Linked DNA regions of Homo sapiens. The protein of the gene in region 1 purifies or fractionates together with the protein of each later gene. This does not show direct contact. Each region holds a gene or a part of one and is shown in the gene's direction. Other genes may lie near its edges. The genes, in order: RBM3, TMEM94, AARS2, MRPS28, YARS2, DICER1 and RALYL.

Evidence for each region.
Region 2: the proteins of RBM3 (region 1) and TMEM94 purify together in Homo sapiens (affinity purification with mass spectrometry, with the first as the bait; one large-scale study listed by BioGRID). This does not show direct contact.
Region 3: the proteins of RBM3 (region 1) and AARS2 purify together in Homo sapiens (affinity purification with mass spectrometry; 2 studies listed by BioGRID and IntAct, with this or other methods). This does not show direct contact.
Region 4: the proteins of RBM3 (region 1) and MRPS28 purify together in Homo sapiens (affinity purification with mass spectrometry, with the first as the bait; one large-scale study listed by BioGRID). This does not show direct contact.
Region 5: the proteins of RBM3 (region 1) and YARS2 purify together in Homo sapiens (affinity purification with mass spectrometry; 2 studies listed by BioGRID and IntAct, with this or other methods). This does not show direct contact.
Region 6: the proteins of RBM3 (region 1) and DICER1 purify together in Homo sapiens (co-immunoprecipitation; one study listed by IntAct). This does not show direct contact.
Region 7: the proteins of RBM3 (region 1) and RALYL purify together in Homo sapiens (affinity purification with mass spectrometry, with the first as the bait; one large-scale study listed by BioGRID). This does not show direct contact.

What each region holds. Positions count from the first base shown.
Region 1 is NC_000023.11:48,578,705-48,582,384, forward strand, and holds the end of RBM3 (RNA-binding protein 3), read left to right. Parts: 3' UTR 1-2,458; downstream 2,459-3,680. UniProt on the Homo sapiens protein: Cold-inducible mRNA binding protein that enhances global protein synthesis at both physiological and mild hypothermic temperatures. Reduces the relative abundance of microRNAs, when overexpressed.
Region 2 is NC_000017.11:75,487,122-75,491,725, forward strand, and holds part of TMEM94 (transmembrane protein 94), read left to right. Parts: intron 1-810; coding exon 811-1,013; intron 1,014-1,637; coding exon 1,638-1,789; intron 1,790-2,144; coding exon 2,145-2,247; intron 2,248-2,454; coding exon 2,455-2,541; intron 2,542-3,112; coding exon 3,113-3,229; intron 3,230-3,580; coding exon 3,581-3,637; intron 3,638-3,927; coding exon 3,928-4,032; intron 4,033-4,181; coding exon 4,182-4,334; coding exon of another isoform or gene 4,335-4,346; intron 4,347-4,569; coding exon 4,570-4,604. UniProt on the Homo sapiens protein: Could function in the uptake of Mg(2+) from the cytosol into the endoplasmic reticulum and regulate intracellular Mg(2+) homeostasis.
Region 3 is NC_000006.12:44,306,306-44,310,909, reverse strand, and holds part of AARS2 (alanine--tRNA ligase, mitochondrial), read left to right. Parts: intron 1-466; coding exon 467-611; intron 612-3,468; exon of another isoform or gene 3,469-3,515; coding exon 3,516-3,661; exon of another isoform or gene 3,662-3,676; intron 3,677-3,834; exon of another isoform or gene 3,835-3,878; coding exon 3,879-3,987; intron 3,988-4,377; coding exon 4,378-4,416; intron 4,417-4,518; coding exon 4,519-4,604. UniProt on the Homo sapiens protein: Catalyzes the attachment of alanine to tRNA(Ala) in a two-step reaction: alanine is first activated by ATP to form Ala-AMP and then transferred to the acceptor end of tRNA(Ala). Also edits incorrectly charged tRNA(Ala) via its editing domain.
Region 4 is NC_000008.11:80,002,050-80,006,653, reverse strand, and holds part of MRPS28 (small ribosomal subunit protein bS1m), read left to right. Parts: intron 1-3,473; coding exon 3,474-3,655; intron 3,656-4,604. Other genes in the region: TPD52-MRPS28 protein, read left to right, coding at 3,474-3,655.
Region 5 is NC_000012.12:32,748,912-32,753,442, reverse strand, and holds part of YARS2 (tyrosine--tRNA ligase, mitochondrial precursor), read left to right. Parts: intron 1-2,568; coding exon 2,569-2,724; intron 2,725-3,335; coding exon 3,336-3,506; intron 3,507-4,531. UniProt on the Homo sapiens protein: Catalyzes the attachment of tyrosine to tRNA(Tyr) in a two-step reaction: tyrosine is first activated by ATP to form Tyr-AMP and then transferred to the acceptor end of tRNA(Tyr).
Region 6 is NC_000014.9:95,091,530-95,095,029, reverse strand, and holds part of DICER1 (endoribonuclease Dicer), read left to right. Parts: intron 1-873; coding exon 874-1,142; intron 1,143-2,335; exon of another isoform or gene 2,336-2,461; intron 2,462-3,500. UniProt on the Homo sapiens protein: Double-stranded RNA (dsRNA) endoribonuclease playing a central role in short dsRNA-mediated post-transcriptional gene silencing.
Region 7 is NC_000008.11:84,917,074-84,921,677, forward strand, and holds part of RALYL (RNA-binding Raly-like protein), read left to right. Parts: intron 1-2,744; exon of another isoform or gene 2,745-2,840; intron 2,841-3,820; coding exon 3,821-3,838; coding exon of another isoform or gene 3,839-3,843; 3' UTR 3,844-4,604.

The sequences.
Region 1 (3,680 bases):
TCTTATCTTAGTCCCATTGTTCTGAGAACATAAGCACCTAATCTCATGGCGTGAGCTAATCCCTATCATAAATAGTGGTACCAGTTCATTCCTTCCCCTGAAATGATGGGGGTTGGGCAGAGATGCACTGAACTCATCTTTGTGTATGAGGGCCATGAGAGAGGCCTGGTTTGAAAACAATGCTAAGAGCTCAGATTCCAGGATTTATGTAGGGGCTCTTCTACTTCCCAGGTATTTGACCTCAGGTGAGTCATTTAATTTCAGCCTTATGCCATTTTACATTTTCTGTGGAGGGTTAGGTTAATTGGCATATAAAGCCACTGAGAAGAGTTGGCAAAGCTCTCAGTCACGGGGATTTGATCTTTTTTGGTGTGTGTGTGTCTTGGGTGGTAAAGTGGTAATTTTGTAATTCTAGCTGGTCTTAGTTCCTCAGTTCTGCTCCCTTTAGTCATGGTTCTTTCTAGTGGCTGTATTGAGGCCCCATGGGTGTTATCCCTCCATTGGTTCTAGTTTGGAACAGAAAAATCTGTTGTATTCATGGCTTTCACCTGGCTAATACTGAGCTAAGTTACCACCAGGTTGCAAACTCCAGGACATTATTGTCCTGAGCTGCCTATTCCCTTGCTGGTGCGTTGTGGAACCCTGTATTATTAGTTCCAGTCCTGGAGGCCTGCCTCCTGAGTTTCCCAGCTAGTTGGGACAGGCCCCAATATCCCTTCTTCCTGTAACCCAAACAGTCATGAATTTGCTTTGGCAGGTGGATGGAGACTTGGGAACTTCCACCTCACCCACTAAGCCAGGCCCAGGCTATGGGGCATTGTGGCTAACCCCACCAGGTGGATACTTGGTCTGAGGACGCATCTTATTCTGGGCCTTTAGGGAGCTAAGGCAGTGAGAATTGGCAGGAGGACTGCTGTGAATGCCTTGTAGGTCGGGGGATTGGAGGGGGTCCTCTGCTCCCTGTCTCTCAGGATGGCAATGTACCTCTCACCCCCAGTGTCAGCTGAGGTAGGATCCATAATCAGTAATATTCCTGCAACAAAATGTTCCTAAGTGGAATCAATGAAGACCAAAATTTATTTGTATAACAACTCTAAACCTGCTCTGCTCTGCTGTGTTTACAATGTGCTTTGTGATCATCCAGCCCAGGGAGTCCCAGTCTCTGGCTGTCTATCTGCTCTAAGGAAGAGAGCCCACAGTTCTCTATAGTGCCATAGTCTGTGATGAATAAAGTTCCAGATTTGAGGTCAACCCCCGACCACCCTTAAAGTGCTTGTTGGTCTCCTACTTTGGTTTGTCTTCAGCATCCAACTGATGCACATTTGTCAAGAACCCACTGAGGCTAGAAACCCCCCAAACACTCAAGGTACCTTGAGAACATGTATCCCAAGACCTGCAAAGACCAAACACATGGCCTGTAACTACTTTTCACTTTCAAGCCCTGGAACTTGTCTGTACCAAAAATCTTTCTGAACCATTCACCAAATCTCTTGTCAAGGGCCAGAATAAATTAAGAGATTGGCTTTTGGTTTTCAATTAGGCTTTCAAGTCCTAAGCCCAACCCCTCCTATCCCACCTAGGCAGAAATCACTTCAGATCCTTGCTTCCTAGTTTAATTTCTTCTCTGCCTCAGTTATAACATCCATAAAATGGAAATAATAATACCCACCTCACACAGGGGTTAGGAGTGTTTTTTTGTTGGTTTTTTTCCAGACAGGGTCTCACTCTGTCTCCCAGGCTGGAGTGCAGTGGCACAATCTCGGCTCACTGTACCCTCCGCCTCCCAGGTTCAAGCAGTTCTCATGCCTCAGCCTCCCAAGTAGCTGGGATTACAGGTGCCTGCCACCACGCCCGGCTAATTTTTGTATTAATAGAGACAGGGTTTCACCGTGTTGGGCAGGCTGGTCCTGAACTCCTGACCTCAAGTGATCCACCCGCCTCGGCCTCCCAAAGTGCTGGGATTACAGGCGTGAGCCACCACACCTGGCCTAGGAGTTAAGAGTATTAAATGTTAAGAACAGACCAAGTCCATCAAACAGCTCCACACCCTTGTTCCATGTTCTGGATTGGGGAGTTGTGGGGGTGGAGGTGTAGAACTTTTAAAAAGCTTCTTAAAATAAGTTGCTGTGAATACTTCAGGTATATAAAAAAACATTGGTTGACAATAAGCCAGTGTTCTGCCATTCTTACCTGCTTATCAAGACAAAACCTGCTCAAGTCCCTGCCCAGCTGCATTCCAAGTGTTTTCAAGTTTGGTGGTAAGACCTGACCTGAGGCTTCTTATAACCTTTACTCAGTGGGAATATGCATACAGTTCACTACAGAAATATTTGTATTTACTTAGAGGAAGTGCCCTGGATCTGGGGGCGGGGGGGGGCGGGGGGAATGGGTCTTTTCTAAATTGTTAAAAGCAGTTCATGCCATTATTCTTAATAAACATTTCTAATATGCTGTGAAAGAGTATATTCGTTTTTTTAATGCATATATCCATTTACTCATTGTTCCCATGAAAGAGCCTTGTATGCAAACCTCCAAATGCCGAAGGAGCCAAGAAACAAGGCAGACAAAAATTGTTAGTAAAGGGTTCTTTACTGGGGGGACTTAGAAGCATGACGTGGGGACGGGCGCAGTGGCTCACACCTGTCATCCCAACACTTTGGGAAGCCGAGGTGGGTGGATCACCTGATGTCAGGAGTTTGAGACCAGCCTGGCCAACATGATGAAACCCCGTCTCTACTAAATACAAAAATTAATCGAGTGTAGTGGCGCACACCAAGTAATCCCAGCTTCTTGGGAGGCTGAGGCACAAGAATGGCTTGAACCCGGGAGGTGGAGATTGCAGTGAGCCCAGATCGTGCCACTGCACTCCAGCCTGAGCGACAGAGCACAACTGTCTCAAAAATAAGCATGGCCTTGGGTGGCAGCAAGATAACCATGCTGTTGCTCTTCAACCCACGGCTTACATACCATAGGGAAAGAGTGTGCTCAAGATGAAGGCAACTCCAGAACAGGCATAATACTCTATGCATCATCATCTAATTTGTGCGATAATGTAAAAGTTGACAAGCTCTTTTTTTTTTTTTTTTTTTTGAAACGGAGTCTCGCTCTGTGGCCCTGGCTGTGGCGCGATCTGGGCTTTCTGTGGCCCAGGCTGGAGTACTGTGGCGCGATCTGGGCTCACTGCAAGCTCCGCCTCCCGGGTTCATGCCATTCTCCTGCCTCAGCCTCCGGAGTAGCTGGGACTACAGGAGCCCGCCACTACGCCCGGCTATTTTTTTGTATTTTTTAGTAGAGAGGAGGTTTCACCGTGTTAGCCAGGATGGTCTCGATCTCCTGGCCTCGTGATCCACCCGCCTCGGCCTCGCAAAGTGCTGGGATTACAGGCGTGAGCCACCGCGCCCGGCCCCTGACAAGCTCTTAAACTAGGGATGGCAAAGGAGGAATCAGGCATTTACAGGACTGGCGCTAGTCAGAAGTAAACGTGGTGGATTGGCATCCAAGATGGAGTAACTTTTGTCTCCACACTCTTGCTGAAGGCTGGAAAATCAGCATGTGAGTCTGTCTTGTAAAAGGTAATTGGGCATGCGCTACTCAAAAAATCATTTGGGGCCCGGTGCGGTGGCTCACGCCTGTAATCCCAGCACTTTGGGAGTCCCAGGCAGGTGGATCACCTGAGGTCA
Region 2 (4,604 bases), on another chromosome or scaffold:
TGGGAGTGCAATGGTGATGGCAAAAGATGGGCCCTGCTTTCCGGAGCTTAGTCTCCTGCCCAGGAGCATCAGTGGCTCCCTTTTGCTTATGGAAGCCATCCCAGAGGCACGAGTGGCCTCCCAGAGCCTCCAACACAGGCTCACCTTCCTCTCCAGCCTCTTCTCTTCCTCCTCATTCTGATGCTGAAACTACTCACCAGTCCTAGGCCCACTGTGTATCAGCCTCTGCCTCTGTGCCTCTCTCCACTGTTCTCTGCTGGTGAGCTTCTCCCTCACTCATCTCCAGCTGACAAAACCATTCTTCCAGGCCCATCCCCAGTGCTTCCTCTTTCAGGAAGCCACCTCTGATCGCCCCAGCAAATCGGTTTGCTCCCTCTTCTGGACTCCTGCAGCACAGGGATCTTTGTTAATGCTTAGCCGTGTTTGCCTTGTTTGGCGTTATCTGTCCACATGTCTCATCTGCCCCACTGGGTTGTGGCTCCTTGAGGAGCTATGTTGTTGTCTCCACCTTGCACCCCTCACAGGCCCTCTGCAATGTTTGTGAAGTGTATCTGAATGGGATGGGGGTACAAAGAACGAGAGCTCCAGGTGTTGAGAGGAGGTAGAGGCTCTGGGGCTGGAGTGGCCGGGTAGGGCTTTATAAGGGAGGCATCCTTGAAAGCAGGGAAGTGTTGGAACGAGTGGAGGGGTTTGACGCAGACCTCCTGGGAGAGGAAGTGGGCAGACAGTGCTTCCGGAAGTGCTGCTGTATCTGACTGGGGGGCAGGGCCGTGGCTGAGAGGGTTGTTTCCCTCTTTCCATTCCCCTCAGATGCCCTCAGGGATGGCAGGGAGATCCAGTGGCCCAGTGCCATGTATCCAGACCTCCACATGCCTTTTGCGCCATCCTGGTCCTTGCACTGGGCCTACAGAGACGGACACCTGGTCAACCTGCCAGTCAGCCTGCTGGTTGAAGGAGACATCATAGCTTTGAGGCCTGGCCAGGAATCGTTTGCTTCTCTGAGGGGGATCAAGGTAGCTTGAGGCTTTCCTTCTCCCTTGGAAATGCGGTGGGAACATCCACAGGCAACGATGGGAGGGTCCCCAGACTTCATCCGGAAGCTTCCCGGCCAGCTTACTGGCTTTTTGGCAGAGGCTCTGGAACATCTTCCTCCACCCTGCTGTTCTTTTTTTTGAAACAGGGTCTCACCCTGTCGCCCAGGCTGGAGTGCAGTGGCACGATCTCAACTCACTGAAGCCTCTGCCTCCTGGGTTCAAGCGATTCTCCCACCTCAGCCTCCCCAGTAGCTGGGATTACAGGCACATGCCACCACACCTCAACTGGCTTATTTTTTATTTTTTGGTAGAGATGGGGTTTCGGCATGTTGGCCAGGCTGGTTTCGAACTCCTGACCTCAGGTGATCCACCTGCCTTGGCCTCCCAAAGTGCTGGAATTACAGGTGTGAGCCACCACGCCTGGCCCCCTGTGCTGTTCTTTATTCTCGCTAAAAGTCTAGTCCCACAGGCCCTGTCCCAGTGGACTCTGGGCTAACTGATGGCTCCTAACCCCAGCGAATGTCTGTACTTAGATGAATTGTCCAGGAAGAGTGGCCTCTGATAGGACCCTCTCGTTCCCACTCTCCCACTTGCTGCCGGCAGGATGACGAGCACATCGTCCTGGAGCCGGGAGACCTCTTCCCCCCCTTCTCCCCTCCACCCTCACCCCGGGGAGAAGTGGAGAGAGGGCCACAGAGCCCCCAGCAGCACCGGCTTTTCCGTGTCCTTGAGACCCCTGTGATTGACAACATCAGGTAGGGGTGCTGCCCCGCCTCCTCCTGTCCCTGGTGTCTTCTGTGAAGAGGGGAATGGGACTGACAAGGAAGGGGCCCCGTTCATCTCGAGGTTCTCTTGAGGGCAGGCATCTCCTTAGGCTCCTGTCCTTAACATCTTGTGAGAATTCTTAGACTGAGTGGTGCCCTCTCCCAGTCTCTACTCTGAGGGGACAGCTCTGGAGGTGAACACGGGCTAGGGCCAGGGCAGAGCGTGGAACTGCAGGACTCACGGTGCTTGAAGAAGCGGTATCTGGCAGAGAGGCCCAGAATCCTCCCAAGGTGTAGGTTTCTAGCCTCTCTGCCAAGTGAGACTGACAGTCACTTCTTTCTGCAGATGGTGCCTGGACATGGCCCTGTCCCGACCAGTCACTGCCCTGGACAATGAGCGGTTCACAGTGCAGTCGGTGATGCTACACTATGCTGTGCCCGTGGTCCTGGTGCGTGTGGCGGGGCTGTGCGGGGCTGCATGGGGCAGAGGAGAGGGCTGGACACGGGGGGGTCTCAGGGCCACTCACATGAGCGGGAGTGAATGCAGAGGGTCCCAGAGTGAGCCAGCCTGTGGAGTAGCAAAGGAAGGGGAACGGCAGTGCCTGGGTCCCTCTAGAGGGGCGGGGTCAAGGCTGTGCCTCTGCTGTTCCCAACAGGCCGGCTTCCTCATCACCAATGCCCTGCGCTTCATCTTCAGTGCCCCGGGGGTCACTTCCTGGCAGTACACCCTCCTCCAGCTCCAGGCAAGGACCACCCTGTCCTCTCTGTCATGCTTCCCTCCGACCCGCAGGGCTGGCTCTTCTCCTAGTACCCTGGCTGTCCCTCCCTCTCTGCAGCCCAGAGGTCCCCTCACGCTTCAGCTTAAGAACACCTCTTTCCAGCTGGGCGTGGGGACTCAGGCCTGTAATCCAAGCACTTTGGGAGGCCACGGCAGGCAGATCATGAGGTCAAGAGATCGAGACCATCCTGGCCAATATGGTGAAACCCCGTCTCTACTAAGAATATAAAAATTAGCTGGGCGTGGTGGCACGTGCCTGTGGTCCCAGCCATTCAGGTGGCTGAGGTGGGAGAATCCCTTGAACCTGGGAGGTGGAGGTTGCAGTGAGCCGAGATCACGCCACTGCCCTCCAGCCTGGCGACGGAGCAAGACTCCGTCTCAAAAAAAAAAAAAAAGAACACCTCTTTCCCTTCCTGCCCCTGAGAGAGCTGGCCCTTCCTGCCCAGGGAATGGCCGTGGGGCCAGGGCAGCCCTTCCCTTCCCTCCTCCCCAGGCCCGGAGCTCAGGAGCCATCTGTGTGGTCCGCTCCTTCCCAGGTGAATGGCGTCCTGCCCATCCTCCCCCTGCTCTTTCCAGTCCTCTGGGTTCTGGCAACTGCCTGTGGAGAGGCCCGTGTCCTGGCCCAGATGAGCAAGGCCTCACCCAGCTCCCTGGTAGGTTTTTCCAAGGTGTCTGGGGGAAGTCACAGGAACAAAAAGAGGGAGCTGGCTGTGCCAGAGGACGGGGGCAGAAGTCCAGCCCCACCTTGGGCTCGGCATGTTGGTCAGCCTGGGCAGCTCTCCAGGCCTCGGGCCCTCTCCATTCCAGAAGGGCCTCCAGGCCAGGCCCTGGGTGTGAGTGAGCGTCTGCCCTGGCTTCCACCAGGTGGGGAGTCAGAACGGCCTGGGCCCTTTACCAAAGGGGTTGGGAGCCCCGCTGGTGTGGGCCCCCCCTCTGCCAGCTTGGAGAGGCCTGTGTGAAGGCGGCGTTTTCCTCACTGAGGACCTCACCCTCTCTCCGTGCAGCTGGCTAAGTTCTCAGAGGATACTCTCAGCAGCTATACGGAGGCTGTCTCCTCTCAGGTACAACACTGACCCGGGATGGCTTCTCTCGCAGGTCCCTAGAGCCATAACCCTGGGACTCCCCTATTTATGGCCTTAAAGCCTCCAACCAGGCTCTTAGAGCCCCATGTCCACCCGTTACATGTGGACATAACCTGGACCTGTTCCCATAACGTGTCCACACCCTGTCCCAGAGAAGTGCCTCTCCACCCCAACTTCGTGGTGCTCCCCTGGATTTTCCCCTAGAGGCCGTCTCCAGGGAAATGAGGCTGAGCCCTAAATGGCCTTGCAGACTTCCTCTCTCCCACCAGGAAATGCTGCGCTGCATTTGGGGCCACTTCCTGAGGGTGCTCGGGGGGACATCGCCAACGCTGAGCCACAGTTCCAGCCTGCTGCACAGCCTGGGCTCTGTCACGGTGAGGGTGGGCCTTGCGGGGAGGAGGCAACTGTCATGCCCGCCCTGCTCTCTGGCTGGGCCTGGGCTGCCCACCTGCCGCTTGAGTGGCCCCTGGGCAGGATAGGCTAATGCCAGGCCCCTTTCCTATCTCAAATGCTTTCCATGCAGGTCCTGTGCTGTGTGGACAAACAGGGGATCCTGTCATGGCCAAATCCCAGCCCAGAGACTGTACTGTTCTTCAGCGGGAAGGTGGAGCCCCCTCACAGCAGCCATGAGGACCTCACCGATGGCCTATCCACCCGCTCCTTCTGCCATCCCGAGGTAGAGGAGGAGGTACGGCCGGCTCCCATGGGCCCGACTCTGGGCCAGGCTGTTTAGCCTTGGAGCCTGGCCAGGGAGGGTGAGGTTTCGGAGGGCGAAGGAGGGTTTGGGCACCATTAGGATCTGCTTCTGGGCAGGTGAGGTGAAGACAAGGCAGCCAGGGGACCTAGAAGCATCCTGCCTCCCCAGGCCATGGGAGCCACTGGTCCTAGCCTGTGCTCCTCATTCTCTTCAGCCCCATGAACGAGACGCCCTCCTGGCTGGCTCCCT
Region 3 (4,604 bases), on another chromosome or scaffold:
AAAACAAACATGTAAACGGTGCTTACCGTGTGTCAGGCACAATTCTCAACACCTTATAGATAATAACTGATTTAATTGTAGTCTTTGCCTGTGACAGCTTAAACAAGTCACTGCTATTCTCTGTTGAACTTGATGATCAACGAGTTGAACTTGATGATCTCAGATTTTCTTCTAGCCTTGACATATCTTTCTAGGGGCAAAGAATTCTGTCCCAAGATGGGATGTCTGGTGCCCAGGCAAGGGCCCAAGCAGGGGTGAGAATGGAAATAGCCCTATATGAGGAAGGACAGGACCCCAAGGCCATCATCATCTGCTATTGCAGGGTGGCAGGGGAAGATACTGATTGTCTGGTTCCTCCCACTGTCAGCTCCCTTGGGCCCCCCCCCATTTCTCTACTCCACTTGGGCATCTGTCTCACACCTGTAATCCTGGGTGGGGCCTCACCTTGCACACCTTCCCTGGCCAGAGAGGCAGATGGAAGCCTGCAGCCCCTGCCCCAGCGGCATGTGGACACAGGAATGGGCCTGGAAAGGCTGGTGGCTGTGCTGCAAGGCAAACACTCCACCTATGACACTGACCTCTTTTCCCCGCTGCTCAACGCCATACAGCAGGTGAGTGCCTCTTCCCTTCCAGAAGCCCTCTAACCTGCTCTTCACAGCCCTCAGCCCCATTGCATTCCATCTTTGTTGAGAACTCAGAGTGTTCTCAGCATCTGAGGACAATAACCAACCAAGAATTCCAAGACGTCAAGCAAGACACTAGGATTCATTACTTATTACCTGATGTTCCTCCTAACTCCTTGCCTCTTTCATTTATTTAGAAAATACGTGTTGAGTGCTTACTTTATGTTAAATCCTTTGTGTTTGGTACAGAAGACACAGCAGTAAGCAGGAAAGAGATCATGGAGATTATATGCTAGCATGAGAGATAGACAATCAATAAATGTGTTAAAGAACAAGGTAATAGCTTACAGATTGTGAACAGGCAGTAAACATGGGTGAAAGTAACTAGGAAGAAGGAGGGGTACAGAGGAATCTTAGATAAGGTGCTTGGGGAAGGCTCACCAAGAAGATGACCTTTGAGCTGAGCCCCAAAGGAGGAGTCAGCTACAGGAAGTTCTTTCCAGGCAGAGGGGACAGCAGGTACCAAGGGCCTTGGTACTGATGGATTAGATGGGGAGGGGAAAGAGAAATCAAAGATGGCTCCCAGGCTATTGGCTTGAGCAACACAGTGAATGGCATGACTGTTTACTGAGATGAAGAAGCTTGGGGAAGAGAGAGGTTTGGAGCTAGGTGAATCAAGCTCCCTGCTTTGGAGCATTTCCACATGTGTGTAGCTTATACCCTCCCTCCTTGCCCCGCAAGAAAGGGCTTGACATGTGCCAAAAACTAAAAGGTGGCCAGCCAGCTAAAGGAGAATCCCATGGGATATAGTAGGAACATGTGTCAGTTGGCTTTTGCTGTATAACCACCCTAATGCTCTGTGGCTTAACCAACAACCATGTATCTGCCCCCTGAGTCTGTGAGCTAGCGTTTAGGCTGGGCTTAGCTGGCTCATTCTTTGGTCTTGTGTGAGCTCATTCATCCATCTGTGGTGAGCTGAGAGGCCGCAGCTCCTCTGGGGCTTGGCTGGCTGTCAGTTTGGGGGCAGTAGGGGTGACTGGACCATGTGTCTGTCATCACCTAGCTGGCTAGTCTGGGCTTGTCCACATCACAGCTCAGCAAGGTTCCAAGACAGAGAGCAGACACATAGGCTCAGAACAGTGTTGTTTCCACTGTATTCTATGGGCCAAAGCAAGTCACAAAGCCAGCAGAGATTCAGGGGATGGAGAAATGGATTCTGTCCCTTGATGGGAAACAGCTGTAAAGTCCCATTTTAAAGTGGCATATGCCTAGGAAAGGGCCATTTTTGTGAACAGTCTCACAGAGAAGAAGGCAGAATCCAGTCTTGTGGGCCTCAAAGTCCAAAGTGGGGCCTTGATTCTCAGAGTGGTGAGAAGAGTTCTCAGGGCTGGGCACGGTGGCTCACTCCTGTAATCCCAGCACTTGGGGAGGCAGAGGGGGGCGGATCGCTTGAGGTCAGGAGTTGGAGACCAGCCTGGCCAACATGGCAAAATCCTGTCTCTACTAAAAAAATAGAAAAATCAGCCAGGCATGGTGGCACACACCTGTAGTCCCAGCCACTTGGGAGGCTGAGGCAGGAGAATCTCTTGAACCCAGGAGGTGGAGGTTGCAGTAAGCTGAGATCGTGCTACTGCACTCTAACCTGGGCAACAGAGTGAGAGTTCATCTCAAAAAAAATAAATAAATAAAAGTGTACATCAGATCATGCCACACTCCCCACTGAGAACCCTTCTTTTTTTTTTTTGAGACAGAGTCTTGCTTGCTCTGTTGTCCAGGCTGGAGTGCAGTGGCATGATCTCGGCTCACTGCAACCTCTGCCTCCGGGGCTCAAGCAATTCTCGTGCCTCAGCCTCCAGAGTAGCTGGGATTACAGGCACCCGCCAACACACCTGACTAATTTTTGTATTTTTAGTACAGATGGGGTTTCACCAGGATTGGCCAGGCTGGTCTCAAACTCCTGACCTCAGGTGATCCACCCGCCTCAGCCTCCCAAAGTGTTGAGATTACAGGTGTGAGCCACCGCGCCCAGCCTGATGTACACTTTTAAAAGGCTACTCCTGTTGCTGTGTGGAGGATGAGCTGGAGGGAGATGAGAGCAGAAACTTAGGAATCAGTTGGGAGGCTATTATCGGTCCAGGCAAGGACCACAGGGCATGCTTCGGATAATAGCAGTGGAAGTAGAGACAAGTAGATTGATTTGAGAGATGTCATGGAGGTAGGAGCAAAAGGAACCACTGATGGATCATGACGGGTAGGGGAAAAAGAATTCAAAGATGGCTCCCAGGCTATTGACTTGAGCAACACAGTGAATGGCATGACTGTTAGACGAAGAAGCTTGGGGAAGAGAGAGGTTTGGTGGTAAGTGAATCAAGCTCCCTGCTTTGGAGCATTTCCGTGTATGTAGCTTACACTCTCCCTCCCTGCCCACCCCCACAAAAGATGGGAGAGGCAAGAACAGGTAGTGGAGAGCACCTGGAGTCCAACAGGCCCGGCTGAGATCTCAGATCTGCTCCTTGAGAGCTGGGTAGCCTTGTGTCACTGAGTTCCTCTGAGCCTCAGCTTCTTCTTCTTTAAAGCAAGCATGCTAATACCTCCTGGAATGGGCTGTTTTGGGGATTCGAGGCCATGTTGTTCAAGTACTCACCCAGTTCTGATAGTAGAAATTCAGTAAATGGTCACAGATATGTTCACTTGTAGCACCAAATATGAGCCCCGTGAGGGCAGGGCCTGGCTTGTGCTCATCTGTGAGGCTTCTCAGCCCAGGACTGGACTGGCAAGGCCATTCTGGATGTGGTTGGCTTTAGGGCTGAGGGCAGATGCTCTAGAGGCGATAAAGAGCACCCACCTGGGCCAGGTCAGGCAGGGCCACTGGCTGACTCTTCTGCTTCCCAGGGCTGCAGGGCACCCCCTTACTTGGGCCGAGTAGGGGTGGCAGACGAGGGGCGCACAGACACAGCGTACCGCGTGGTGGCTGACCACATCCGCACACTCAGTGTCTGCATCTCTGATGGCATCTTCCCTGGGATGTCAGGTCCCCCGTGAGTCTGGAAGGGCTACAGAGAGGACAGGGGCTGCTGGGGGTCTCAGGTGGAGGAGGGAGGGAACAGGAGAGGTGGGTCTGGTTGAGCCAGTAGGAGGAATGGGGAGAGGGAGAGCTTTGAGGTGGGAGCACACACTGGACCTCGTCCTTCCCACTCCCCATATTGCTGACCATGAGCCGCTGGGGATTCATGTCTGGGCTCTGAACCCCTTTAGGCTGGTTCTTCGTCGGATCCTGCGTCGAGCTGTGCGTTTCTCCATGGAGATCTTAAAGGCACCACCTGGCTTCCTAGGCAGCCTGGTACCTGTAGTGGTGGAGACACTGGTAAGGACAGAGCTTCTTTTTCACTCTGGGCCTCCCTGGGCACTTTGGGGAGCCTACCACTGAGCCTAGACAGTGCCCCCAGCCTGGGTGCCCAGAGGTCCCCACCCTAAATATCGAGCCCAGCATCCTATCAGCAAGCTAAGAAAGCTGTCCTTGCTTACAAGAAGCAGGAGAACTTGAGGAGGCTCCTTTTCCAAACTGCTCAGCCCTTGACCTCAGGACCCCCTTCTGCCACCCTACAGGGAAACCAGTTCCCCATTTGAGTCCCTCTCCCAGCCCCTCAATGTGTCTGAGCCTCCAGGGCAGGTGTCCTCAGGGAGGCCCAGGGTGGGGAGGTGGGGGTGGGTTGGTTGCCTTTCACACCTCCTCAGCCCTCTCCACCTCCCCCAGGGAGATGCTTATCCAGAACTGCAAAGGAACTCAGCCCAGGTACTGGATTCCAGTGGGAGAGAAAGGGGTTGATGGGAGAGTTGTGGAGAGAGACCCTCCTTCCAAGGAGACCCAGCTCCACTTCTTCTCTGCCTGGTTCAGATCGCCAACCTGGTGTCAGAGGACGAGGCAGCCTTCCTGGCCTCCCTGGAGCGGGGTAGGCGGATCATTGATCGGACTCTGAGGAC
Region 4 (4,604 bases), on another chromosome or scaffold:
TTTGCGTAGAGGTGTTTATAGTATTCTCTGATGTTAGTTTGTATTTCTGTGGGATCGGTGGTGATATCCCCTTTATCATTTTTTATTGCGTCTATGTGATTCTTCTCTCTTTTCTTCTTTATTAGCCTTGCTAGCGGTCTATCAATTTTGTTGATCCTTTCAAAAAACCAGCTCCTGGATTCATTGATTATTTGAAGGTTTTTTTGTGTCTCTGTCTCCTTCAGTTCTGCTCTGATCTTAGTTATTTCTGCGTTCATTTTGTTATGTACCCAGTAGTCATTCAGGAGCAGGTTGTTCAGTTTCCATGTAGTTGAGCGGTTTTGAGTGAGTTTCTTAATCCTGAGTTCTAGTTTGATTGCACTGTGGTCTGAGACAGTTTGTTATCATTTCTTTTTTACATTTGCTGAGGAGTGCTTTACTTCCAACTACGTGGTCAATTTTGGAATAAGTGTGATGTGGTGCTGAGAAGAATGAATATTCTGTTGATTTTGGTTGGGGAGTTCTGTAGATGTCTGTTAGATCCACTTGGTGTGGAGCTGAGTTCAATTCCTGGATATCCTTGTTAACTTTCTGTCTTATTGATCTGTCTAATGTTGACAGTGGGGTGTTAAAGTCTCCCATTATTATTATGTGGGAGTCTAAGTCTCTTTGTAGGTCTCTAAGGACTTGCTTTATGAATCTGGGTGCTCCTGTATTGGGTGCATATATATTTAGGATAGTTAGCTCTTCTTGTTGAATTGATCCCTTTACCATTAAGTAGTGGCCTTCTTTGTCTCTTTTGATCTTTGTTGGTTTAAAGTCTGTTTTATCAGAGACTAGGATTGCAACCGCTGCCTTTTTTTGTTTTCCATTTGCTTGGTAGATCTTCCTCCATCCCTTTATTTTGAGCCTATGTGTGTCTCTGCACGTGAGATGGGTCTCCTAAATACAGCACACTGATGGGTCTTGACTCTTTATCCAATTTGCCAGTCTGTGTCTTTTAATTGGAGCATGTAGCCCATTTACATTTAAGGTTAGTATTGTTATGTGTGAATTTGATCCTGTCATTATGATGTTAGCTGGTTGTTTTGCTCATTAGTTTATGCAGTTTCTTCCTAGCATCGATGGTCCACAGTTTGGCATGTTTTTGCAGTGTCTGGTACCGGTTGTTCCTTTCCATGTTTAGTGCTTCCTTCAGGAGCTCTTTTAGGGCAGGCCTGGTGGTGACAAAATCTCTCAGCATTTGCTTGTCTGTAAAGGATTTTATTTCTCCTTCACTTATGAAGCTTAGTTTGGCTGGATATGAAATTCTGTGTTGAAAATTCTTTTCTTTAAGAATGTTGAATATTGGCCCCCACTCTCTTCTGGCTTGTAGAGTTTCTGCCGAGAGATCCGCTGTTAGTCTGATGGCCTTCCCTTTGTGGGTAACCTGACCTTTCTCTCTGGCTGCCCTTAACATTTTTTCCTTCATTTCAACTTTGGTGAATCTGATAATTGTGTGTCTTGGAGTTGCTCTTCTCGAGGAGTATCTTTGTGGCGTTCTCTGTATTTCCTGAATTTGAATGTTGGCCTGCCTTGCTAGATTGGGGATGTTCTCCTGGATAATATCCTGAAGAGTGCTTTCCAACTTGGTTCCATTCTCCCCGTCACTTTTGGGTACACCAATCAGACGTAGATTTGGTCTTTTCACATAGTCCCATATTTCTTGGAGGCTTTGTTCATTTCTTTTTACTTTTCTTCCTCTAAACTTCTCTTCTCACTTCCTTTCATTAATTTGATCTTCAATCACTGATACCCTTTCTTCCGGTTGATCGAATCAGCTACTGAAGCTTGTGCATTCGTCACGTAGTTCTTGTGCCGTGGTTTTCAGCTCCATCAGGTCATTTAAGGACTTCTCTGCATTGGTTATTCTAGTTAACCATTTGTCTAATCTTTTTTCAAGGTTTTTAGCTTCTTTGCGATGGGTTCTGACTTCCTTCTTTAGCTTAGAGAAGTTTGATCGTCTGAAGCCTTCTTCTCTCAAGTCATCAAAGTCATTCTCTGTCCAGCTTTGTTCCATTGCTGGCAAGGAGCTGCATTCCTTTGGAGGGGGAGAGGCACTCTGATTTTTAGAATTTTCAGCTTTTCTGCTCTATTTTTTCCCCATCTTTGTTGTTTTATCTACCTTTGGTCTTTGATGATGGTGACGTACAGATGGGGTTTTGGTGTGGATGTCCTTTCTGTTTGTTAGTTTTCTTTCTAACAGTCAGGACCCTCAGCTGCAGGTCTGTTGGAGTTTGCTGGAGATCCACTCCAGACCCTGTTTGCCTGGGTATCAGCAGCAGAGGCTGCGGAACAGCGAATACTGATGAACAGCAAATGTTGCTGCCTGATTGTTCCTCTGGAAGCTTCGTCTCAGAGGGGTACCCGGCTGTGTGAGGTGTCAGTCTGCCCCTACTTGGGGGTGCCTCCCAGTTAGGCTACTCAGGGGTCAGGGACCCACTTGAGGAGGCAGTCTGTCTGTTCTCAGATCTCAAACTCAGTGCTGGGAGAACCACTACTCTCTTCAAAGCTGTCAGACAGGGACATTTACGTCTACAGAGGTTTTTCCTGCCTTTTGTTCGGCTATGCCCTGCCCCCAGAGGTGGAGTCTACAGAGGCAGGCAGGCCTCCTTGAGCTTTGGTGGGCTCCACCCAGTTGGAGCTTCCTGACTGCTTTGTTTACCTACTCAAGCCTTGGCAATGGTGGGCGCCCGTCCCCCAGCCTCGTTGCTGCCTTGCAGTTTGATCTCAGACTGCTGTGCTAGCAATGAGCGAGGCTCCGTGGGCATGGGACCCTCCAAGCCAGGCATGGGATATAGTCTCCTGGTGTGCCGTTGGCTAAGACCATTGGAAAAGCGCACTATTAAGGTGGGAGTGACCCGATTTTCCAGGTGCCGTCTGTCACAGCTTCCCTTGGCTAGGAAAGGGAATTCCCTGACCCCTTGCGTTTTCTGGGTGAGGCACTGCTTCGGCTCACACTCGGTGGGCTGCACCCACTGCCCTGCACCCGCTGTCCGACAAGCACCAGTGAAATGAACCCGGTACCTCAGTTGGAAATGCAGAAATCACCTGTCTTCTGGGTCACTCACGCTGGGAGCTGTAGACTGGAGCTGTTCCTATTCGGCCATCTTGGAACCCCTAATTTTGTATTTTTAGTAGAGACAGGGTTTCTCTATGTTGGTCAGGCTTAGAACTCCCGACTTCAGGTGATCCACCTGCCTCGGCCTCCCAAAGTGCTGGGATAACAGGCGTGAGCCACTGTGCTCCACCTTGATGCCTACTTTCTTTAGCTCCTCTTCAGGAAGGAAAGGATGGAAGAGGAAGTTGAAGAGCATAACTGGCATTTTAAAGCAAAATTCCACATATATTTTAAAATTATTGCTACAACAATTGACTTTAAGAAAATTTCTTTAAGACTTTATTATACCTTCATGTTGAGTTATATGTATATAAATATCTCTTTTCATATTTAGGGTTCTCCAAAAAATGTGGAATCCTTTGCATCTATGCTGAGACATTCTCCTCTTACACAGATGGGACCTGCAAAGGATAAACTGGTCATTGGACGGATCTTTCATATTGTGGAGAATGATCTGTACATAGATTTTGGTGGAAAGTTTCATTGTGTATGTAGAAGACCAGAAGTGGATGGAGAGTAAGTAAAATCATTTCCAAGTACCTTAAGAGTATTCATAAAAGTTGGGATAGCGCAAAAGTATTGTTGAATGAAAGGTGATTTTTTGAAAAGACAGAAAACATATTTATTTGTCTTGATAATGCTGCAGTAAAGTCTGAAGTGCTTTAAAAATACTTGTTGGTCATGTCAGGCCAGACTCATATCTTCTCAAAGCAGTGAGAGCAGTTGTTGGGAAGACTTGAATGTTCATCCTGATAATAAGCCATTCCACACCATAAACTTAAAACCAACTTTGTAATAATGCATGTTGCTTAGGCTATTTTGCCTGGAACCATTTTTTTGTCCCTTCTCTCTGTTCCATAGTCTCTTTCCACTTCTCCTTTCTTTTCTTATTATTTTGCATCTATTTTTAGGATTATTTTTCCTAATAAATAGAGTTCATTCTGTTGTGGTTTATGTAGGTAAAGATATTTATGAATATAAATAGGCACTGGAGAAAGCACTAAGGTGGGAGATCTAGGAGTGGAATATCAAGAGTCAAGGAGAGGTTGAACTAAGATTCTGAGATGGGAAAACAATAGAACAATAGTAAACGAGATAGAAGTGATTTTTTTTCCCCATCAATTTCTAATGTGCATTTTTTACTTTTCACTATTTTTGATATCAGGATGCATGTTACAGTTGACAGTATATTAAATTAACTGGCAGTGTTTTTTTTTAATCATATATAAAACAATAGTGAATCTAGTAATCAATGGTATTTTAGATAGGATGAATTACAGTGTTTAAGAAGTTTTTGGCATATAAAAATTGGTCATATTGTGGAAATGAAAGGCGAAGAGTCTACTGTAGACCTAGGAGAGCAATTATGAGAACGAGTTGCCTCTCTCCTGAGAGCTGGATATCTAAAGATGCCGTTGATAATTGGTCTTACCCAATTTAGAGACATAAGCTTGTCCTACCTGAA
Region 5 (4,531 bases), on another chromosome or scaffold:
TGTAACATCAAAGTAATCTAGGAATAATTCTTTAAGACTTAAAAGGTATATGACTTTCCTGCAAAATATTAAAAGATGCTATTGAGCAAAATAAAGACCTACATAAATGGAGAGTTAGACCATATTCATAGTACAAAAATAATATCAGTTCTTTTTTGTATTTTTTGAAACAGAATCTCACTCCCATTGCCCAGGCTAGAGTGTAGTGACGCAGTCTTGGCTCACTGTAGCCTGAAATTCCCAGGCTCAGGTGCACACCACCATGCCCAGCTAATTTTGTATTTTTTTTTTAGTAATGGTGGAGTTTCACCTTGTTCCCCAGGCTGGTCTCAGACTCCTGGACTCAAGCGATAAACCTGCCTCAGACTCCCAAAGTGCTGGGATTACAGCATGAGCCCCCGCACCCGGCCAAGATACCAGTTCTGGATTTGATCTACATTTAGTACAGTGCCAACCATATCTAAACCGGCTTTTTGTGGAACTTGACAAGCTCATTGTAACACTGACATAGAAATAAAAAGGGCTAAGATTGGCCAAGATGTTTTTGAAGAACAGAGTGGAAGATTATCATGCCTTATTACAAAATTTTGGTAATTGTGTTTTTTTCTCTTTAGATTTAGTCCTAGAATGTTTGACGATATAGTCCTGGGGTTTTGATGTATTGAGAATTGATAATCTTTTTTTTTTTTTTTTTTTTTTTTTGAGGCAGTGTCTCACTTTGTTGCCCAGGCTAGAGTGTAGTGGCATGATCTTGGCTCATTGCAACCTCCGCCTCCTGGGTTCAAGTGATTCTCCTGAGTAGCTAGGACTACAGGCATGCGCCACCATGCCCAGCTAATTTTTGTATTTTTGTAGAGGCAGGGTTTCGCCATGTTGGCCAGGCTGGTCTCGAACTCCTGACCTCAAGTGATCCACCTTCCTCAGCCTCCCAAAGTGCTGGGATTACAGGCTTGAGCTACCGCACCCGGCCTAGAGAATTTAGATAATCTTTTCAAAAATTGCATTTTCTATCTGGTTCTGGTGTATAGAAATACAATTACTTTATATATATTACCTTTAAATCTAGCAACTCTGCCAAACTCACTATTTGATTACAGACGTGAGCCACTGCGCCCGGCCCAATACTGTATTTCTTGACCATGGTGATGGTTACATAGATGTTTTATGATTCATTAAGCTATATCTTTGTGAATAATGTACTTTTTTCTGTGTGTTATATATATTTCACCAAAGAAAAAGAGAATACATATAGGATGATATTATAGTCATATATCACTTAACAATAGGGATACATTCTGGGAAGTGTGTTGTTAGGTGATTTCATCATTGCAAATATCGTAGAGTGTCCCTGCACAAACATAGATAGCATAGCCTACTACACACTTAGGCTATACAGTGTACCCTGTTGCTCCCAGGGTAGAAGCACATACAGCACATTACTGTACTAAATACTGAAGGCAGTGATAACGCGAGGGTAAGTATTTGTATACGTAAACATAGAAAAAGTACAGTAAACTATGGTATTATAATGTTATGAACCACTGTTGGACTGTACCAGTCCGTGGCCTGTTAGGAACAGGGCTGCGCAACAGGAGCTGAGTGGCAGGCGAGCGAGCATTACACCTGGGCTCCATCTCCTGTCAGATCCACGGTTGCATTAGATTCTCATAGGAGCACAAACCCTATTGTGAACTGCGCATGCAAGAGATCTAGGTTGCGCATTCCTTTTGAGGATCCAACAAATGCCTGATGATCTGAAGTGGAACAGTTTCATTCTGAAACCACCTCCCCTCCCCGCCGCCTCGTGGTGCCAAAAAGGTTGGGGACCGCGGATATATGTAGTCCATCATTGACAGAAACATCATTATGCAGAGCATGATGATTTATATCAGTTTTTAAAATTACACAGTACTTTTTTTTTATGGCCACATGCACATGAAAGTATAAAAACATGCTTGGGAAAGATGGCAGCACATAAACTTAGATTTATGATTATCTCGGGGCAAGGAAGGGAATGTGATTGGACTGCGGCCTTCATCTATGCCTATTTTGTTCCTTTTAAAAAGAAAATACGAGGCTGGGCTTGGTGGCTCCTGCCCATAATCCCAACACTTTGGGAGGCTGAGACAAGAGGATCACTTGAGCCCAGGAGTTTGAGACCAGCCTGGGCAACACAGGAGACCCCGTCTTTACAAAAAAAATATAAAAATTAGCCAGGCGTGGTGGCACAAGCCTGTGGTCCCGGCTGCTTGGGAGGCAGAGGTGGTAGAATTGCTTGAGCCCAGGAGGTTGAGGTTACAGTGAGCCATGATCATGCCACTGCACTCCAGCCTGGGCAACAGCAAGACCCCCATCTCAAAAAAAAAAAAAAGAAATTGAAAACAAAGATGCCAAAATAGTAACACCTTAAATCTGGGTGATGTGTGCATGGGACCTACTATGTTCAGTACATTTCTGTATGTTTGTTTCATATTTAAAAGTAAGCAGGATAACCTTAAAGGGTAGAAGAGCTGGAGATAAAAATTAGGTATGTTATATAAGTGTAACTCTTTATTTTTTGTCTCAAAGGTACCTGAAGCTGTTCACTTTCCTGCCCCTTCCAGAGATTGATCATATCATGCAGCTGCATGTCAAAGAGCCAGAAAGGCGGGGTCCTCAGAAACGACTGGCAGCAGAAGTAACAAAGCTTGTTCATGGACGAGAAGGATTGGATTCTGCTAAAAGGTAGTAGTTTAGTATGATTAACACTTGATAGTTAGTTATTCAGTGGATAGACATGAGAAAAGTAGGAGTATGTTTTAGGATTATCTTGTCATTTATCACAAGGACTGTCAGTATTTGACTTAGCAATTTAAAATAGCCCCTGTTTATTGGAAAGAAGGATTATCTTGAATTAAGTTTATGAATTATACCAGATAGATGTTTAAAAAACTTTTAGTCTATGCCGGGCGCGGTGGCTCACGCCTGTAATCCCAGCACTTTGGGAGGCCAAGGTGGGCTGATCACGAGGTCAGGAGTTCGAGACCAGCCTGACCAACATGGTGAAACCCCCATCTCTACTAAAAATACAAAACTTAGCTGGGCGTGGTGGCACACGTCTGTAATCCCAGCTACTCAGGAGGCTGAGGCAGGAGAATCGCCTGAACCCGGGAGGCAGAGGTTGCTGTGAGCCGAGATCATGCCATTGCAATCCAGCCGGGGCAACAGAGCGAGACTCCATCTCAAAAAAAAACTTTTAGTCTAGAACTTGGACACTCTATAATTGGTTAATGGGTATTAGAACATGTATTTGAATAAACATTTATATGATGTAGCTCTTAAAATGTGTTTTTCAGGTGTACACAAGCCCTTTATCACAGTAGCATAGATGCACTGGAGGTCATGTCTGATCAGGAGTTAAAAGAGTTGTTTAAAGAAGCTCCATTTTCTGAATTTTTTCTCGATCCTGGAACAAGTGTCCTAGATACTTGCCGCAAAGCAAATGCCATTCCAGATGGTCCCCGAGGGTAAGATTATTTAACTTTTAGATTTACAGTTAATTCACCATTAAATGTTACAGTTCACAAGGCCAGGAGAAGTGGCTCATGCCTGTAATCACAGCACATTGGGAGGCCGAGGCGGGCAGATCACGAGGTCAGGAGATCGAGACCATCCTGGCTAACACGGTGAAACCCTGTCTCTACTAAAAATACAAATTAGCCGGGCATGGTGGCAGGCGCCTGTAGTCCCAGCTACTTGGGAGGCTGAGGCAGGAGAATGGCATCAACCCGGGAGGCAGAGCTTGCAGTGAGCGGAGATCCCACCACTGCACTCCAGCCTGGGTGACAGAGCAAGACTCTGTCTCAAAAAATAAATAAAATGTTACAGTTCACAGCATGTGTTTCCAGAGAGGATGTTTTCCTGATAGTGCTTTAGTGGCATCTCTTCCTTAGAAAAGTTAGTTTAGTCCAAGAATAAAGTATAGCCTGAGAGTACTTATTGTTGAAAATACTTTATATTTTCTATAATAGTACAGTACTCCTATACTGTCTCTTATTATATCTAACCCAGTCAGTCTTTCCTCCAACACTGGAAAAGTGCATTTGAGGGACATGTTCAGTAAATACACTGGCATCAGTGTACGGCTTAGGGATATGGTCACAGTTTTAGAGGGATGCAGAAACAGAGGCCCTATGTAACAGATTAACACAGCCCCTCTCATAGTCTGTATCCTTTTTATATTCGGGGATGGGAAAGGTTACCTAACCTATCTATAGTATTAACTGAATTTCTGAAAATGAAATGAGCATATAATGGCCAAAACCGCAAGTACTTTTGCACTAACCTACTAACGTCATAAGACTATTATTGTAAACTATATAATAATCCCCTTGAGAATTGCATTTTCTATTCAGGAATTGAGTAGAATATTTTAATTAATCAGTTATGAGGTATTAAGGAGTAAATAAGGTTTTTCACAAAAAATAATTCAGCATATAATTGATGCTTATCCATTTTTAAATGAACAGTGAGGTGGAAGGAAAAGTGTTGG
Region 6 (3,500 bases), on another chromosome or scaffold:
AAAGACTGATGAAACTAAAGCCTAATTTTCGTTATGGAGGAAAAATGATACGTGGCTTTCGACTACATTCTGCTGGAAGTTCCGAGACCTGGGTTCTCGCCTAGCAGTCCCTGCTTCTTAATTCCTTGCTTATTCTGGGACAAGTCACCATCGGTCCCTGCCTCAGTTTCCTCAGCTGGATATATTATTTTAATCACTGTGAGAAAATAGAGGTGTTGATTTAACATTGATCATTTTCACATTTTGACAACCAGTTTACCTGCCTTTGCTCCCTTTCACAACTCTTCTTTCTCAATCTCTTGGTTTGTGGTAAATTCATTTCTATAATAGCTCAAGTTAAGAAGAGGGTCTTCTTTTCCTGTCATCCTGTGTAACAAAAATAGCCCAGGAATAGTGAGGAATGGTATCACTTATGCACAGATTCCAGAGTGTGAATGAGACTTTAGCGATGGCAGCACAGTGTAGCCACATGGAGAGGTGTGTGCGGCCCTGGTTTCACTTAAGTGATGATGTGTGAGGGAGACTCGAGAGGAAGGCCCCAGCACCTGCCCAGACAGCACAGTGCCAGAGAAAAGCATTCAGTGATCATGATAGCACCTGTGAGGTTTTGTTTTTCCTTCTTAACAAGCGTTAGTCTTTTGACCACTTGAAGATTTTATGACCCCAGTTTATATAAGAAATGTACTTAATTTGTCATTAAAATTTAGTTTCCAGAGGCTTTTTAGTATGATATGTCAGATATCCTTTTTGAAGAATATATGTATGAAAATGATTGTAAATACAAATCTTCTTCGGATTTGGGGATCAGTTGCTATGTGGGGATAGTGTAAATGCTTCTGCACAAGCTTACGGTTCCACTTCGGATCCCCTCAGATTGTTACCAGCGCTTAGAATTCCTGGGAGATGCGATTTTGGACTACCTCATAACCAAGCACCTTTATGAAGACCCGCGGCAGCACTCCCCGGGGGTCCTGACAGACCTGCGGTCTGCCCTGGTCAACAACACCATCTTTGCATCGCTGGCTGTAAAGTACGACTACCACAAGTACTTCAAAGCTGTCTCTCCTGAGCTCTTCCATGTCATTGATGACTTTGTGCAGTTTCAGCTTGAGAAGAATGAAATGCAAGGAATGGATTCTGAGGTTAGTGCTGTTCAAAACGATGTTGAAAAAAGTGGTCTAACTAGGAGTCTCTGTAGTTTCAGAGTTCTGACGGCATAGTGGTCTAAAGGGACAGCAGGAGGTCAGGGGTGTGGGACCCAGTGTGCTGTGTTCTGTGGGAGCACGAGTGAACTGCAGTTTGCAGGTAGGCCTCTTGAACTTGTCTGCCCCCACTGTGGGCTGTGTGGTCATTCAGGTGAAGAGAAGGAACCAGGCCTTTCAGTTAGGTACCCTTCCCACGCCTTCATGAGGGCTTCCAGCATTGAGGCATGCCAAAGAAGTGGCCTCCACTGCCGGACCCCAAGGCAGGTTTAGCTTTAGTAAAAGCCCAGTGTAGCTTATCCTTCCTTTTTTAAATGGATCAGAAATATTTGCTAATATCTCAGGGAAGCATCATAAATATACATTCTGCTTCTACTTGAAGTGGGAAAATCTAATTTAAAAAACAAACTTCTAAATTTTTGACCATTGGAATTTGGGAGGCTTCTATTGTAAGTTCAGCCAAAGGCTGTCTGGTGACAGAGCTAATTCTAATGTGTTTGTGAGCTATTTCGAATTTTTGTAGGAAAGGATATTGCTTAGATCTTTCCAGTCTCTTAACATTCATCTGCATACCTGTGTCCCCCAGAGAGACTCTCATTTCCTCCTCTTCCCATTTCATTTCCTTTGATTTTCTTATTTTTGTAGATTTTCTTATAAGGAGTCAGGAAATACAACCTTAATACTAGTAGCTGTTTTAGTTGTCATTGCTTTAATTTGTACCTTCCCCTTTTTAATTGCACCAAACCTTTGTTGGGGAGTAGTGACTTTCTATGACAAAAATTAAGAGTAGGTTTGAAGTCTAGCCGCAGAGCCGAGTTCACGCCCTGCCAGCTGCCCAGATGTGCACTGGAGGAGTCAGTAGGCCCTGCTCTTACTTTAACGCGCCTCTGTGCTCTTGTCCAAGATGAACAGCCTGAGCTGGAGCGTGGCAGGCTGTGAGGCGAGAAGGCGGGACCAGCTCGTAGACTTCCAAGTGTTACCTAGTCTCATTCTTTAGAAATAGCTAAGCTTGAAATTTGAGGAATTAGTTAAAATTAGATTTAAGCTCTCTTTGGATGCCAGTGGGGCATATTGGTTTTGTTAGTTTTTGTTCATTCTTTTCCTTCCCTTTGTTTATATAAACATATGTATAGAAGTTACAAGAACTGATTGGAAATGTCATGGTCTGGCATTTCTAACTTACTATTTGATCTTAAGAAAGTCTCTTTACCTCTCTGGGCCTCCGTTTCCTCAGCTGTAAAAAGAGAGAATTAAACTTGGTAAGTTTTAAAATTCCTTTCTATCTCAAAACCATAAATATGAACAATAAGTCTGTTTTTTTAAGTAATCAGCAGTATAAATGTATTATATGTAACTTTGTATGGCTAAACAACCTATTAGAAATTAGTATTTTCCCACTTTCTCTTTATTTTTTTCACAAATGATTTGTGTTGATTTTAGAAAAGTTAGTACAAGTAAATAAGAAGAAAATTAGTTAAATTTGCCTGATTATGCTACCTCGGAAATAACCAATATTAACATTTTGGGAGGAATTGTGGATGTGTATAGATATAAACATATCTAAAATGTAAAATGGAATTCTGTTATGTATAGGATACTGTCACCTGTTCTTTTCACGTATAATATATTGTGGCTGACTTTCCGTGTATTGATGGGTATCGTGATGCTCAGGGGCCACACGCTAGTCAACACGTGGCTGATTGATTTAAACGCTTCTTTATGGCCGAGTAATTAAGTAGTTTTTGGTTAGGATGTTTAATAACCATGGAGGTGATAAATACGCTTATGTATCTAGTTACCTCCTTAAAATAAGTTCTTAGAGATGCAATTGCTGCATCAAAGAATTGTGAACTTTTCAAAGGCTTTTGATGCATGATTTTCTTTTATTAATTTGCATACATGCTATGTCAGATACTCGGTTATAGTGAACACATATCTAGTGGCTTAATGAAGAGGGAACTTGGAGGAAAAAATCTTTCAAATATAATTTCCCTATTTCCCTACAACAGCGATTTCTGCTCCCCAAAGCAGCATACACCCGTGCCAGCACCAGACCAATTAGTACTATTGAATGCTTGCCAAGCAGCTAGGGAGTAGAACTGTTTTAAAGTATAGTTCTTTGATTACGAGTGAATTTGAATTTTTTTCATACTTTTATTGACTATTTCTAATTCTTTGTTAAGGTTGTTTAAAGTTAGAAGTAATCTTTTTTCTTTGCTGGGTATATAGAATAATAAATGGGGTGGGGATATTTTTTCTTTTTTTCTTGAGAAGTTTGAAAAACTTTTTTAAAAATAT
Region 7 (4,604 bases), on another chromosome or scaffold:
TGATACTATAGAAAATGGCTGATTTTCCTAGCCTTTTTATCTTTCCATTTCTGTATGAAATAACAAAACCCACTGATTTGGGCATTTGTGATCCACTATGCTAAAAAGCCCTGTTGTTTCTTGGTCTTTTTTATTTCATGACTATTGTGAGTCAGATGGAAAATAGGATAAAGACATGAGAATTACTGAGCAGAACAATGGGTTTGAGTTATAAAACTGAACAGTTAGGAGGGGCAGGGAAATAAGGACAGAGAAGGTGGAATGGAGACAGGGAAAAAAGCAGTGAGCATGTTCAGAAGACAGTTTGCCAGTGTAGTCACAATTTACCAAGAATCACTATAGACAATGTCAAGGGTTAGCCCAATTTACATTCAAGCATTTATCCTTTGTGTTACAAACAATTTAATTATTCTCTTTTAGTTATATTAAAATGTGCAGGTAAATTATTATTGGCTGTAGTCACCCTGTTGGGAAATTACATACTAGATGTCACTCATCTAAGCCTTGTTTTTAAAGTTAAAATCTCAGATGATTCTCCCCTGTGTTTTCTGATTCACTGTCCTATACTCTAAATGGCCATCAACTCAGGAATAGAGATTATTCAGCCTCCAAGAACTACCTAATGGAGCAGTTTCCTCCATTGGTAGTTATTCCAATAAGTTACTACTCATTTTGGTTTTCATTCCATTACAGTTTTTTGATATGATTATTTGAGCCTAAAAATGTAACGTAATTTGGTTCCTAAGAGTTTATTAACAGAAGACAAGTTTTAACTTATGATGAACAGTAGGTGCTGAGAATTAGTCTGTGTTACTTAAAAATTTGAATTGAATTGTATCTCATTTAGAATGAGGGATTTGTGAAAGCCAAATATATTCACATTGTCTATAAAAAGTGTGAGTGGCTGAATGATTACTCAAGAAACATGATCCATAGTGGCAACAAGTATAATTGCTGTTCATAAGACTTTGCTTTTCTATAAAGTGTTATGTGACCTGTCTTACCTACAGTTTCTTTCACCTTATTTGCATTTATATATGCTCCCTAAAAATACAGATGATGTAAATTTCTCTAAGTTCTTATTAGTTATAAATCTGAATTAGAACAAAAATAACAAGCATTCCTGCTACTGAAGAAGTCATAAGACTTATTTAAAAGTATGATTTTCTGGGCAGAGTGTAAATAAGGTGGATTTATTCTATATATTGCTGTACTCTTTTATTTCAAATATAGTAATGCATAAAGTTTAAAATTAAATGTGCCTTCCATGTAGATTAATACTATCCATTTCATCTTTGTCAAGTAGAAGTAATTGCTTGGTTCAATACAATCCAGTCCCATCCGAGTAGATCTCTTTGTTCTTTTTCAGAAATGGGAGAGATTGAGAGTTTAAAAAGCATTCATCATCAGGAGAATTTGTTTTAAAAGCTTCCAAGCTCCCAAACAGCCAGTAGATAAATTACCCACTATTCAGAGAAAGAGAGCACAATTAGTTTTACATTATACTAAAACAATCAGCTCCATAAGTGACTATGTTTCTTAAGAAAAAAGCAATATGAATGTCATAGTTTGTCCTCTTTCTCCCAGGCTTTACAGCCAACAGCAAGCCTTTTCTCATACTAGAAGTTTTATGGAAAGCTTTGTGAATATGTTTTGACATTGTTTTTAGATAAGGAGAAATATATTCATGACTTGTAACCATGTGGTTAATAATACCTACTTCACAATGCAAAGTTAATGAGTCTTTTGTTTTATTCAAATGCTTTGAAGCTTTATGGTAAGAAGGAAGACTTCAATAAATTATTTTCAAATCTACCTTTCTTTCCCCAATAATTATTTTTATGTAATTATTTACAACTAAGAAGCAAAGGAAGGTGTAAGAAAAAATTATACTGGGGGTAATGAATTATGCACAAAAAATCTACAGGTTGTTTTTTTCATCTTAACAAAATACATAGTTGCTAAACAGTCATTACCTCTTTTGACACATGCAGGATGGTGTAAGAATGTACTAAATTCATGTCAACTGCCATGACTTAACCTGGAGAAACACCATGACTAGTAAGCTTTACATACACAGCTGCTACAGTATTTTTAGCATTTTCCATTTATAATAAGAAAGTGATCAATGGAGGCCTTAGAGGAAAGAGTGCAATTGCAATCATATAAATAGCCTTATTTCCTTTTTTGCACACAAGTGGTATCTATCAAAATTCAAACATTGTAATACCTATTTTCATATATCAGTGTTCATCTATGGGTTACTTTTATTTTATTTTTTAAGTTATTCATTCTCATAATGATAATTGATCATTGTTGATATGTGCATGCAGGTCATATACAAAACTTCCTTTACACCACACAAAAAGTAGTCTACTTATGTTGTATAATAAGTTCGAACCTTTGTGCCTTAAGTACAAAACTGACTCTTCTCATGCACATAAACACAACCTGGAACTGCATGACAAACACATTTGAATAAAGCTTTCATTTTTCAAAATTCATATATATGTGATCAGTGTACAGTATGAATTGGGTAAGGAGAAAGAGAGGGAAGAGAAAAGGAAAAAGGCAGTGAAGGAGAGAAATAGAGAGAAAGAGAATATATCAAAATACAGTGTCAAAATGTCTTATTCATGAAAGCTTCTTTCCTAGGGATATAAGTTTTTAAATGTGTCTGACTATAGAAAAGACTATTAAGTGGGTATGTTTTGTTTTAGATCAGTTTATTAAATTTTTTTTCATGTTAGACAGGTAATGTGCCAATATCATAACAAGATTTGAGGGAGGCACATCTCACACATGAGTGTGAAAATTCAATCATCACATTCACTGAGTCTCTTTCAACCAGTAGTCTTAGCCAGGCATGAAATCTGGGGGGCTGCAAACCTCCAAAGAAATTCTCACCACCCATTTGCCACACTCAGTCTTTTTCATAATCTTTGTATCATGGACTTCAAAGCTTTAATAAATAAAGTCAAGTTACCTAATTCTCTGGCTACTTATAAAAGGTCAACATGTCCCATCCCATCTGATACCTTGATTTGCATGTCTTTGACTCTTAAGACATACACAGATTTTCTATCTAACCCCTAAGACCTTTGAAGTTGATGGGATAACAGTAGGTCTAATATTTTTTATCTAAATATAAAGACCTGGAACTTGATAGGATTCTAAGATAAATACATAATTTTCCCCACTGATTGAGTCTTGCATTATTTTGTCTTCATATTCAATTTCAATCAGTTGTTCAACCAATTGAATTTGGGCTCTTACATAATGCTTCAGACTCATGGTTGCACCATGAAGTCTTTCAATGTTTCTGATTTTCTTCTTTTGCAACCAAGATTGTGAAATGCAGATCAAAGACCTGTATTGGCTTTTTCTCCTATCCCAGATGCATAAGGCTTAGGACAGCACTGTTCAAAGCCTCGTAGTAGGGGTATCCTATGGTCATTCTTGTTAGGGGCACAACAAAGATTCACGAGTAATTGAAATCTCTTTCCCTAGTCTAGAACTTTAAGTGGTTCCTCCTTTGACTTGGACAAGAGCTCAGGTTGAAAAGTAATTGCTGACCTCAGGCAATAAATTAGCTGGATTAAAAAAAATCGTAACATTCCATAAATGAAAATAATTATAGATTTGCCTACAACAAAGGACCTAAGAACCTACCATCAAAATTATTTGTCCTAAATATCTAATTCTTCCTTTATTCTTCCCCTGATCTAACCTTAAAATCTAACTTACATATCAGTATACGCATGCTATCAACAATAAAACACAAATCTCTGTATTTTAAAATTTTTTTTTATTTTCTCAGTTTCTACAGATAAAGTGATCTGAAATAACGCATGATGCCACAAAGCAGAAAAGAGAAACTGTGACAACCCCCAGAAATGTGAAAGGAGGTTTCTTACTGGACAGCAGCATCTTTGGTTCAATTTATATAAAAACCCAAATAAATAAAATGGACAGTATTGCTCAGTTTTAGAAATTCCATTTCTTCTATGTTTTAAGCTGTACAATTGTCAGGTTTTTATGGTTTAAATTGTAAATGTGTTTTCCCCTTTGCTAATTATGTTTTTTTTTTCAGTCTTAAAATGTGAAAGGCATTTATGAATGGTAAGGGAAACACTATATACAAATGTATATTTGTAAAAGCTATTTTTATGATTAGCATGTTTCACTGTTGATCATATATAAAGTCAGGTGATATTGCAATTCTGTATTTAAAGCTTATTTCCAACAATGTCATGTAAGAAAAGATGCATCTTATGCTAGTTTTTATAATTTATTTATAATTTATAGTTTAAAGTACTTCAGATCATAATGATAAAATACTTGAAAAAGTTATATTTCTGCCCTGTATAAGCACCCTTTTTATTAATAAAGAATGCAGATATTTCAGATGTGATATAATAGTTAAAGAACTGTTGGTTTGATCTGTGATTAAGTTGAGCATGCTCCGCTCTACTGAACTAAATGATCCAATTATTACTTCAGTCTGGGTATGAGATTCCATGGACAAGTAAGGACTAGATTGCCAAGGAAAAGACTGTCTTGCCCTTGGATCCAAAAGTTTAAATTAGTGCATACATCATGTC